Linked DNA regions of Homo sapiens: region 1 is linked to region 2. The links come from fine-mapping of genetic effects on gene expression. A gene starts in region 2. The other region holds a variant in brackets. All regions are shown on one strand. Distances are between the middles of the regions. Region 1 overlaps HADHB (hydroxyacyl-CoA dehydrogenase trifunctional multienzyme complex subunit beta). Region 2 holds the start of GAREM2 (GRB2 associated regulator of MAPK1 subtype 2).

Region 1 (5,364 bases), 87 kb before region 2:
TACTTGTATATTATGTATATTTTATTGGCTTAACAATATAGCTCGAAGAACATTCCATGTTAGTATATCAAAATCTAGTTCATTATTTTCTTGTTTTTGTTAATGTTGGAATTTACCTACTCTATCATTATTCCTTATCAAAGATAGAAAAAAATCCTAAATTATTGGGAATACAATGTCAACAACGACCTTACCACACCTGTTAATGTCACAGAGAAGTATTTATAGTAAACATCTACAACCAACTTTAAAGAAATATTAGTGAGAGTTAATAGTCATGATAAAATAGGGCATAAAGATGACGCTGGCAGCATTCATGGAGAAGTGCTGCTGGTGAAGGAGATAAAGGCAACAAGGAGGTAAGCAAAGAGACTGTGGCAAACCCAAGCATGTGGCACAAAAGGCCAGGATAAAGGCAGTATCAACATGAGTAAAGAGGAAGTTTATAAAAGAAAACAAGGTATGTTGGCAACCAATCAGATATAGAAAGAAAGGAAAGAGGAAAACAGGATTATAAAGGAATCTTAGAGACTAAGAATACCTAGCTACCCGAAACAAAGTGAGAACTGGTTTTGGAAAAAAAAGGGGACTTAATTTTTTTTTTTTGAGATGATGCCTTGCTCTGTCGCCAAGGCTGGAGTGCTGTGGCACGATCTCGGCTAACTGCAACCTCCACTTCCCAGGTTCAAGCAATTCTCCTGCCTCAGCCTCCCAAGCAGTTGGGATTACAGGCACACGACACCACACCTGGCTAGTTTTTATATTTTTAGTAAAGATGGGGTTTTACCTTGTTTGCCAGGCTGGTCTTGAACTCCTGACCTCAAGTGATCCGCCAGCCTTGGCTTCCCAAAGTGTTGGGATTACCGGCATAAGGCACTGCGCCTGGCCTCATTTTTAAACTCGCTAACTTTGAGGTGACAGAGAGACAACCAGGTGGATATGTTAATTCCACAGTTAGCTAGAAGATGCAAAGCAAAACCTCTGAAGAGAAATGAGTGTAGATTAGAAAGTCATGAAATATTGAAGCTTAGAATACAGAAGGAAAGCAGAGATGTATTCTGCAATGCCTGTTCTCCCACAGCCCCCTCTATTTCTTTTATTTTTAAATTTCCTATTTCCTCTTTAACAATAAAAGATACTTTTTTTGTTTGTCTGGATGGGGGGGGGGTATTTGTTGTGTTGTTGTTGTTTTGGACATCCCACAGGCCCCTCTAAAGGGAGTTGCCCTGCTTACAGTCCCTGCCAAAGGGGAAGCCATAGACACATCCCTAAGTCAATATAAAAGCTGATTAGATTCAGAGTAGGTACTGGACTCACCAATGATCCATCCATATAGGAGCCAACCAGAAACCAGTGTCATCTACCTACAAGTGATCAACTGTGTTGGTCAGATTCTCTCTCTAGGCAAAGAAGCATGGAAAGAAATGCCAATTAGTTGAAGCTAAAAAGATGCCATGAGGAAGAACAGGTTGATGGTAAACTGATGTCATTCGTAAGCCAGAGTTTGTAAACCATAAGTGAGCAAATAAGCCAGCCAGAATGAAGAATGATAGAAGCAGAAAGACCAGGAAAGGGACATACCATGTGGTGTGTGAGACAAAGTAGCTGGCCCCTAGAGCTGCTTGCTTGGTTCCTAACACCTTTCCAGCTGTAGTACACACAAACCTTCTCATCCTTAACTTGAGGGTCCATTACTACACCAAAAAACCCTTAGCTTTGTGATGTCCCTACAATGAGAAGGCTGAGGGAATATGTGAGACAAACAGTAACTTGAGAGGTAGTAGGAGAATCAAGAGAGAACAGTACACAAGATCAAAGGCAGGAGAGTGTCAAGGAGAACAAGATGGTTAAATGCATCGGTCCTCAAGGAAAATCCTTATTTGAGCAGACAGAAAACAGGTCACTAAATTTGAAGATTTGCACACTATTCATGACTGACCTTGCAGGTGACAGGTCGAATGGTACACCATCATGTCATTCCACATTTTAAAAACTAACCAAGCCAGGCGTGCTGGCTCACGCTGTAATCTCACCGCTTTGGGAGGCTGAGGCAGGCAGATCATTTGAGGTCAGGAGTTCAAGACCAGCCTGGCCAACATGGTGAAACCCCGTCTCTACTAAAAATACAAAAATTAGCTGGGCACGGTGGTACGCTCCTATAATCCCAGCTACTGGGGAGGCTGAGGCAGGAGAATGGCTTGAACACAGGAGGTGGAGGTTGCCGTAAGCTGAGATCATGCCACTGCACTCCAGCCTGGGTGACAGAGCAAGACTCTGCCTCAAAAAAAAAAAAAAAAAACCAGAAAAAACTGACCATATATTCCTTTTATATACTTTCAGATAAAATTCAAATTCTTAACTCTTCTAACAAATAGCTTGTTTTACTCGGTTCCACCTTAAGTATTTTCCACTACTTCTCAAAATAGAACAAGATGAGCCAGCCCCCAGTCCTTTACAGCTTTGCTCAGGTCAGCCTCCTTGCCTTTACTTATGGACCTCCCATCTGCCTGGCCCCTTTTTTGCCCATCGAATTCTTACCTGTCTCTTGGGCCTCGTTCACATTCTACCTCCTAGTAAAGCCTTCCCTGATAACTACAGTTACTGATGATTCCTGCCTCTAAACCTCTGGGCAACCTCTAGGGCACACTGGCCATTCCAAATAATTTAGCATATTATAAAGTAATTAAACTAACTCTACAAGGCACATTTAAAAAATATTCATTATTATATGTAGGAGATCAGTCGGAGTGGTGGGAGAAACTATAGGGAAAGATGCAGGCCTTCTAAAAGGTCAGAAGGTTCTGCAGAGCCCTGGGGGAGAATAGCTGAAGGCAGCTGTTCTATAACCCTGAGGCAGAGGGCAAGGAGTAGGTACAAGGGAGTGTAGGGGAACGTATCTTAAACTAGCTTATTTATGTTGACCAGGAGCTGATCTTTGATCATCCATGCAAGACGTTCCTGGAAGGGGAGAAATAAACGTTAATTACCCACAGATTGTGTTTGCTCCAGGCTTTCATCACTGTGCCTACACTGAATAAAAGCAAGGAGCTCCAGCTTCTCAGGGCTGCTGCACTTTGGCCACTAGAGCCAGGCAGACCCCTAGCTGCTCTTACACTGCA[T/C]ACCTGTGTCTGAGTACTCATTTCATCTGTCAGTCAGCCAGGGTCTGTGGGACAGACCCGGCAGGTGGTGCCCCGTGTGAGACATGCTGCAATGGATCACGACAGAACCCTTGAAAATGAAAGTGAAGTGACCGTGCAGTAAGTAATTGGTGCCCACTCAGGATTTCCAAGTTCGAGGGGATTTTCAAGCTAGGGTTTCATCATGGGACATGATGTTCAAGCTAGGGTTTCATCATGGTGAGAGGGTTTCATCATGGTGAGAGGCAGGACTAGCTGGATTTCCTAGGCCGACTAAGAATTCCTAAGCCTAGCTGGGGAAGGTGACTGCACCCACCTTTAAACACGGGGCTTGTAACTCAGCTCACACTCGACCAATCAGGTGGTAAAGAAGGCTCACTAAAATATCAATTAGGTTAAAAGCAGGAGGTAAAGAAATACTCAAATCATCTATCATCTGAGAGCACAGGGGGAGCGACAATGATTGGGATATAAACCCCAGGCATTTGAGCAAGGAGGGGCAACCCCCTTTGGATCCCCTACCCTTGTATAGCAGCTCTGTTTTCACTTTATTAAATCTTGCAACTGCACACTCTTCTGGTCCATGTTTGTTCTGGCTCGAGCTGAGCTTTTGCTCACCTTCCACCACTGCTGTTCGCCACTGTCACAGACCCGCTGTTCGCCACTGTCGCAGACCCGCTGTTGACTTCCACCCCTCGGATCTGGCAGGGTGTCCGCTGCGTTTCTGATCCAGCGAGGCACCCAGTGCCATTCCTGTTTGGGCTAGAGGCTCGCCATTGTTTCTGTGCGGCCAAGTGCCCAGGTTCGTCCTAATCGAGCTCAACGCTAGTCGCTGGGTTCCACGATTCTCTTCCATGACCCATGGCTTCTAATAGAGCTATAACACTCACTGCATGGCCCAAGGTTCCATTCCTTGGAATCCATGAGGCCAAGAGCCTCAGGTCAGAGAAAAAAAGGCTTGCCGCCATCTTGGGAGCCGCCTGCCCCATCTTGGGAGCTCTAAGAACAAAGGCCCACCCGTAACAATGGGACTTGAGTTATCAGCTCAACAGCAACAGTACATAAAAGTATTGAAACAGCTGCTTGAAGCTAGCACAGCCTCCGTTTCGGAGGCTCAGTTAAGGGACCTAATGCAAACTGTTGTTTTCCATAACCCACGGTTCCCAGAAGAAGGCACACTAGACCTAGAGTTCTGGGAACAAGTTGGAAGAAATCTTTTTTTTTTTGAGACAGAGTCTTGCTCTGTCCCCAGGCTAGAGTACAGTGGCACGATCTCGGCTCACTGCAAGCTCTGCCTCCAGGGTTCACACCATGCTTCTGCCTCAGCCTCCCAAGTAGCTGGGATTACAGGCGCCCGCCACCACGCCCGGCTAATTTTTTGTATTTTTAGTAGAGACAGGGTTTCACTGTGTTTGCCAGGATGGTCTCCATCTCTTGACCTCGTGATCCGCCTGCCTCAGCCTCCCAAAGTGCTGGGATTACAGGTGTGAGCCATCACGCCCAGCCACAAGTGGGAAGAAATCTTAAATGACATCATGCACAAGGGCAACAGGTCCCAGTAACATCTTTAACGTTGTGGGCCTTAGTTAGGGCTGCTTTGGCCCTGCTCTACACAGAAGAGCCTAAAAAGAGAAGCGAAGAGGAACCATCACCTACCTTACCACCTCCTCCTCCCTCAGCCCCGCCGTTACTGGGTAAAGGTGCCACAGAGGAGACAGAGGTTTTTCCTGAGCCCCCTCCCCCAATAAACTGGGAAGAAGACAATGGATATACTACAGTTATGGGACCCTGTCTTAGGCAAGCAGCATTAGAAGGGGAGCTCTTGGCCGGGTGTGGTGGCTCATGCCTGTAATCCCAGCACTTTGGGAGGCCGAGGTGGGCAGATCACGAGGTCAGGAGATCGAGACCATCCTGGCTAACACGGTGACACCCCATCTCTACTAAAAGTACAAAAAATTAGCCAGGTGTGTTGGCGGGCACCTGTAGTCCCAGCTACTCAAGAGGCTGAGGCAGGAGAATGGCATGAACCTGGGAGGCAGAGCTTGCAGTGAGCCGAGACTGTGCCACTGCACTCCAGCCTGGGCGACAGCACGAGACTCTGTCTCAAAAAAAAAGAAAAAAAAAAAAAAAGAAGGGGAGCTCTTAGCCTTCCCAGTGACGCAAGATCAACAAGGCAATCAGGTACATGAACCCATTACTTTCAACACTTATAAATAAATAAGAAAAA
Region 2 (5,364 bases):
GCCTTGTCAAGGGGACCTCGAAGGAGAGGGGGGAGTCCCCAGAAACCCCCAACCCCATCTCAGAGAAGCAGCTCCTTGACACCCCCTCCCCACGCCCCCTCATCCTCCCAGTTACAGGGGTGACGGCTGAGGGTTGGAGGGGTTGAGAGAGCAGGTTTAGAAGGCAGGAGTGGGAGGCCCAGCCCTGGGGCCTGGGGGAAGCTGCTCTGGGGCAGAGGTGTTGGGAGTTGGGAGGGGTCTGGGCCTGGAGGCGCCAACCCCAGCAACGGTTTCCAGGGGAGCAGGAGGGGCAGCCCAGCTTCCAGGAGGCAGAAGGGGCTGTGTCCGGGCTGCAGCTGGTGGGGAGGGTGGGGGTAGGGAGTACCTCCTTCCTTTCTCCTTCAGGCACAACTTACAAAATTTCTGCCAATCAAATGGGAAATGGTTTACTCTGATGGCTGGGGGCTCCATAAAATGTGTACATGTGGGGTAGGCGTGTGTGTGTATGTGTGTGTGTGTGTGTGGCAGGGTGGCGGGCGGTTCAAGACGCACAGGAAGGGCCTGGCCCCCACTATGTGTGTGTTGGGGGTGTTGTCTAAGCTTTCCCCTGTACCTCCTCACCTCCGGGGGCCCAAGAAGCTCTCCTCCAACTCTGCTCCCTCCTCTGAGAGCTGTCCTGGGTCCTAGCCCCATCTTCACAGCCACATGGGCACACAGCAGTAATCATGGCTCATGACCACCAACAGCTGAACCACAATAGCCCACAGTGACAGATGCTTGTCACCCAAACAACATAACTCAGTCTCCGGCCAAGGGGCCCCTCCCAAATGCACAGGCACACAGGGACCTACCCTTCAAGCCATACAATTCTGACCAGACATTCACACCCTGATGGTGACCCAGCCATAGCCACACACTGTCACACACAACAGACAGCTGGGCCATCACACCAGTTGTTCATTCACTCACCCATTCATTCAATCCATAATCTTTATTGGGCAAGGATGCCTGGTCTCAAGGAGCCCACAGCCAGGTCTAAAGACAATAAACTGACTGACCATTATAATGGGGTGCACAGTAGGAGACAAGCCAGAGTTGGCATGAGGTGGCCGGGGAGCCCAAAGGAGGCCCTACGCAGACCGAGGAGCTCAGAAAAGCTGCCCAGAAAGGGGAGATGCCAAAAAGGATGTGTGGGAAGTGGCCAGAAGACCCCAGGGCAGCGACCTCCATTCACAGGCAGACACAGTACCACACTCTGACCACTCGGCCGCGAGCCAGAGAACTAGACGCTGGCCTGCCCGACGGCGGGGCGCCGATGCTCCCCCATGAGCCTGCTCCCGGGACAGCTGACGCCCACTGTGCCCACTCCTGGCCGCCACGGAGGAGGGGCTGCCGGGCCCCACGGGGAGACGAGGAGCCTGCGGCCGCGGGCCCCATTAGCATTCATGGAAGCGAGTGTGCCAACGCGGGCCAAACCCCTATTCTTCTCACACACAAAACCCCCGGCCTGGCTGCCAGCCCCGGCTACCGCCCATCCCCCAACCAAGCAGCACCCCCCTCCCCCCAAACGGTCCCCTCGCTCCATGCAGCCTCCGGGCGTACCCTCTCGGGCCCCCATGCGTGGTTCCATCAGCCGAGCGGCTGGGGGCCCCAGGTCCTATTAAGAAGTGGGACAAGATTCGGGGGAGGGCCGGGAGTTTGGGGGTCACGCCGGGCAGCAGACCCGGCTCCCGCCGGCCTCTCCCGAAGGTGGCCTGCCCGCCCCAGGACCGAGGCTGCTCCTAGGGAAGAGAAAGGAGGTGCAAGAAGGGTCCCCAGAGGGGCGGAGCAGGACTAGGGGTGGCGGTAAGGGGAAGACAGAGTCCGGGTCCCAGGGATGAGGGAAGACAGAGGTGAGAGGCCAGGGACAAAGGGACCAAGGGGGCGCGGCCGGGGCGGGGGGCCCAGGGGCAGCGGGGGAAAGGGGGGCAACCGACGGGGCGGGAGCAGGGGCTCGGCCCCTTTCCGGACTCCAGCTGGGCGGGAAAACTCTGTCCCGGGCCCTGTCCCCGGTGTCTGTGCCTGTGCTTGTCCGCGGGGCCCAGGAGGCGGACCTGGCGGGTGGGCCCCGCGTCTCCCGGGAGGCGCGCCAGGAACCGCTCGGGGCCCACGCCGGGGAGCTGGGAGGGTGCGGGTGCCGCACCCTCCTCACGATCCCTCTGGCCCCTGGCTGGAGAGCCCACCATTTCCCCGCGGACCCCGGTCCCCATCTCCAGCGACCCCGGTACCTGGCCCAAGGCAGGCGAGCGTGGGCAGGCGGCAGCGGCTGACGATGAGGTCGAGCGGGAAGGCGCCCATGCTCCAGCGCAGGCCGGCCAGCCCGGCCGCCAGCTTCTCCATGGCATGGGCGCCCCGGGGCCGCCGTCCCGGGGCCCCGACGGTCAGTCCCGCGCGGCCCAGGCTCTCGCGCCCGCCGCCACCTCCCGGGGCCGCCGCGGCGCTCGCCGCCTGGCAGCCCCGCCGGGCCGCGGGCGTCACGTGGCCGGCCTCCCCGCAGGGCGCCGACCCCGGCCCCGCCCCCGGGCCCCGCCCCCTCCTCCCGGACCCCGGCCCCCTCCTCCCGGACCCCCGCCCCCTGCTCTGTCCGCCCCGACCCGGACTCGCCGCCGGACCCACCCCCGGACCTCCGCCCCCAGCCCTGTCCGCCCTGCCCCGCCCCGGCCCCCTCTCCTCGGACCCCGTCCCCGCGCCCCCTTCTGGGACCCCGGGTCCCCAGCCCCGCGCTCCGTCCGCCCGCCCCTGCCCCCGCTCCCCGGCCCCCACCCGCCGCTGCCGCCAAGCCCCGCCTCCCCTCCCGCCAGCTTCCCCGCGCCCAGGTGACGGCGGGTGATGGAGGACCCCAGGGCGGGCGCCTGGAGGGACAACGAAGTCCCGAGCGGCATCTGCGGAGTCGGCGCGGGGTCGGCCTCCTCCTTCTGGCTGGGTGTGTCCGGGCCCCGCCGCTCCCCCTCGTGCTGGCCTCCCGGAGGCCGCGCCCACCCGCGCCCTGTCCTGCTCCGCCGCCCAAAGCTCGGGTTCTGAATTCTGCTCTTCCAGGACCTTCATCACCTCCGGCTCCGTGGAGCTGGGCGAGGCAGCCTCCTTAACCCCATTTTACTGATGAGCAAACTGAGGGGCAGAGGTCAGGTGGCAGCCAGGACTTCAACCTAGGTTGGACTTCAACCCAGATTTGACTCCAACCCTACTGCCCAAGAGCACCCTACAGCGCCCCACCATAGAGCACCTTCCACGTTCCCAGCGCCCCCTTAGCCGATAGCCCTGTGTCATGTAAACCGGCGCTCCAACCCTTCCACAGCACGCGGTGTGGACTGCGTCCATTCTGCAGATGAGGAGGCCGAGGTTCGAGGGCGTAACCGGTGCTGCGGTCTCCTCTCGGATCATTACAAGAACCGCCTTCCTCCCCCACCGCCACCATCCCTTCTCTCTTTTCCTTCTCTTTTTTTGAGACTGGGTCTCACTCTATCACCCAGCCTGGAGTGCAGTGGCGCGATCTCGGCTCACTGCAACCCCCACCTCCCGGGCTCAAGCGATCCTCCCACCTCAGCCTGCGGAGTAGCTGGGATGACAGGCACCTGCCACCACTCCTGGCTAATTTTTTTGTATTTTTAGTAGAGACGGCGTTTCACCATGTTGGCCAGGCTGGTCTTGAACTCCTGACCTCAAGCGATCCTCCCGACTCGGCCTCCCAAAGTGCTGGACTTACAGGCGTAAGCCACCGCGCCCAGCCTTCGTTCCCTTCTTTTAATTTGCGTTTCCTTTTCTGCTGTCCTCACCTCTTCCTTCCAAGCCCCCTGGACTCCAGCTCGGGGCCTCCCTTTGGGACCCCCTTCCCAGAAGCTTAGATGGCCTCGGCCTCGGCCTCGCCCTCTCTGTGTCTGCGGCGCCCTCTGCAGGTAATTGGGGGATGATGCGGGCCTGGCTGATCTCGCGGAGCCAGCGGGCCTTAGTCCCTAGGCTGCTCCCTCACGGGAGTGTAGTGGCACGATCTCGGCTCACTGCAACCTCCGCCCCGCAGGTTCAAGCAATTCTCCTGCCTCAGCTTCCTGAGTAGCTGGAATTACATATGTAGCTGGGATTACAGACAAGCACCACCATGCCCGGCTAATTTTTCACCTGGCTAATTTTTGTATTTTTAGTAGAGACAGGGTTTCGCCATGTTGGCCAGGCTGGTCTCGAACTCCGAACTCAAGTGATCCACCCGCCTCGATCCATCAGTCCTCAGCCTCGGTACCCCCGGAAGAACCCCACCAAATACAAACAAAACCCTCTCTTCTGAGGTGACTGACACCTGGCATCTTATGGCTCGAACCCCATGAGAAATGGCAGCCGACAAGATGAACACCACTTCTCAGCGAGAAGAGACGTTTTAGATCAGTGGTTCAATCCTCAACTGCTGCAGAGGAAAAAACTGAGACTCCAAGAGCAGAAATGCTTTGCTCTAAGGTCACACGGCAAGAAAGAGGCAGCGCTGCGACCAGAAGGCAGGACCCCCACCTACCAACTTGACCGAGGCCCTTCCCCAGCCTGGCCCAAACCCAGCCCGCTCACCCTGGCCAGGGAGGAGCTGCTCACCCCGGTGACTCAGGCAGCCCAGATGGACTCCGCTCTCCTGAGTCTGTAGGGGTGGGGTGGGTTCTTTCCCAGGGAAGTGGGAAGGTGAAGCCTGGCAGGAGAAGAAAAGAAAATACAGTGAAAATATAGGAGTCTTAAGAAGGGAATGGGCCAGGCGCGGTGGCTCACACCTGTAATCTCAACAGTTTGGCAGGCCAAGGCAGGTGGATCACTTGAGGTCAGGAGTTCGAGACCAGCCTGGCCAACATGGTGAAACCCTGTCTCTACTAAAAATACAAAAATTATCCAGGCAAAAAATTAGCCGGGCATGGTGGTGCTTGTCTGCCACTCCAGGTACATCTGTAATCCCAGCTACTCAGGAAGCTGAGGCAGGAGAATTGCTTGAACCTGGGAGGCGGAGGTTGCAGTGAGCCGAGATCGTGCCACTACACTCCAGCCTGGGTGACAGAGCGAAACTCCATCTCAAAAAAAAAAAAAAAGAAAAGAAGGGAATGGAAGGTCTGAGACAGGAGGGCGAAAAGGCCGGAAGAAGCAAGTGAATGAGAAGGGTGCTGCCTTAGATTCACTTTTCTTCCCCTACCCTGTAGGGTCTCTCTTTAGGGTGACCGTGTGTCATCCTAACTGGGAGACTTTTAAGAGGGAAGCCGGTACTAACCACCTCCCCACCCAGCTAGGACAACAGGTGCAGGTAGCCTGGGCTCCAGACAGCAGGTATAAACTGGCATTGAGCCACGTGGTCACCTTCTCCCTGCGCCCTGGACAGAGACGCCACAT

The links.
Region 1: its variant is fine-mapped to the expression of GAREM2 in lung (TOPMed, PIP above 0.99). The same link has a PIP of 0.9 or more in whole blood.

Annotation. Positions count from the first base shown.
Region 1 is chr2:26,257,017-26,262,380 of GRCh38, reverse strand. All of the region lies in intron 3 of HADHB (hydroxyacyl-CoA dehydrogenase trifunctional multienzyme complex subunit beta), which reads right to left. Among named protein-coding and RNA genes, the nearest start is that of HADHB, 15 kb to the right of the region's middle. The variant T/C (reference allele first, on the strand shown) is at 3,120.
Region 2 is chr2:26,170,215-26,175,578 of GRCh38, reverse strand. GAREM2 (GRB2 associated regulator of MAPK1 subtype 2) reads right to left here and starts at 2,491. Exons shown (of 6, transcript NM_001168241.2): 1 at 2,247-2,491. The coding sequence starts at 2,358. RefSeq lists an enhancer at 1-29.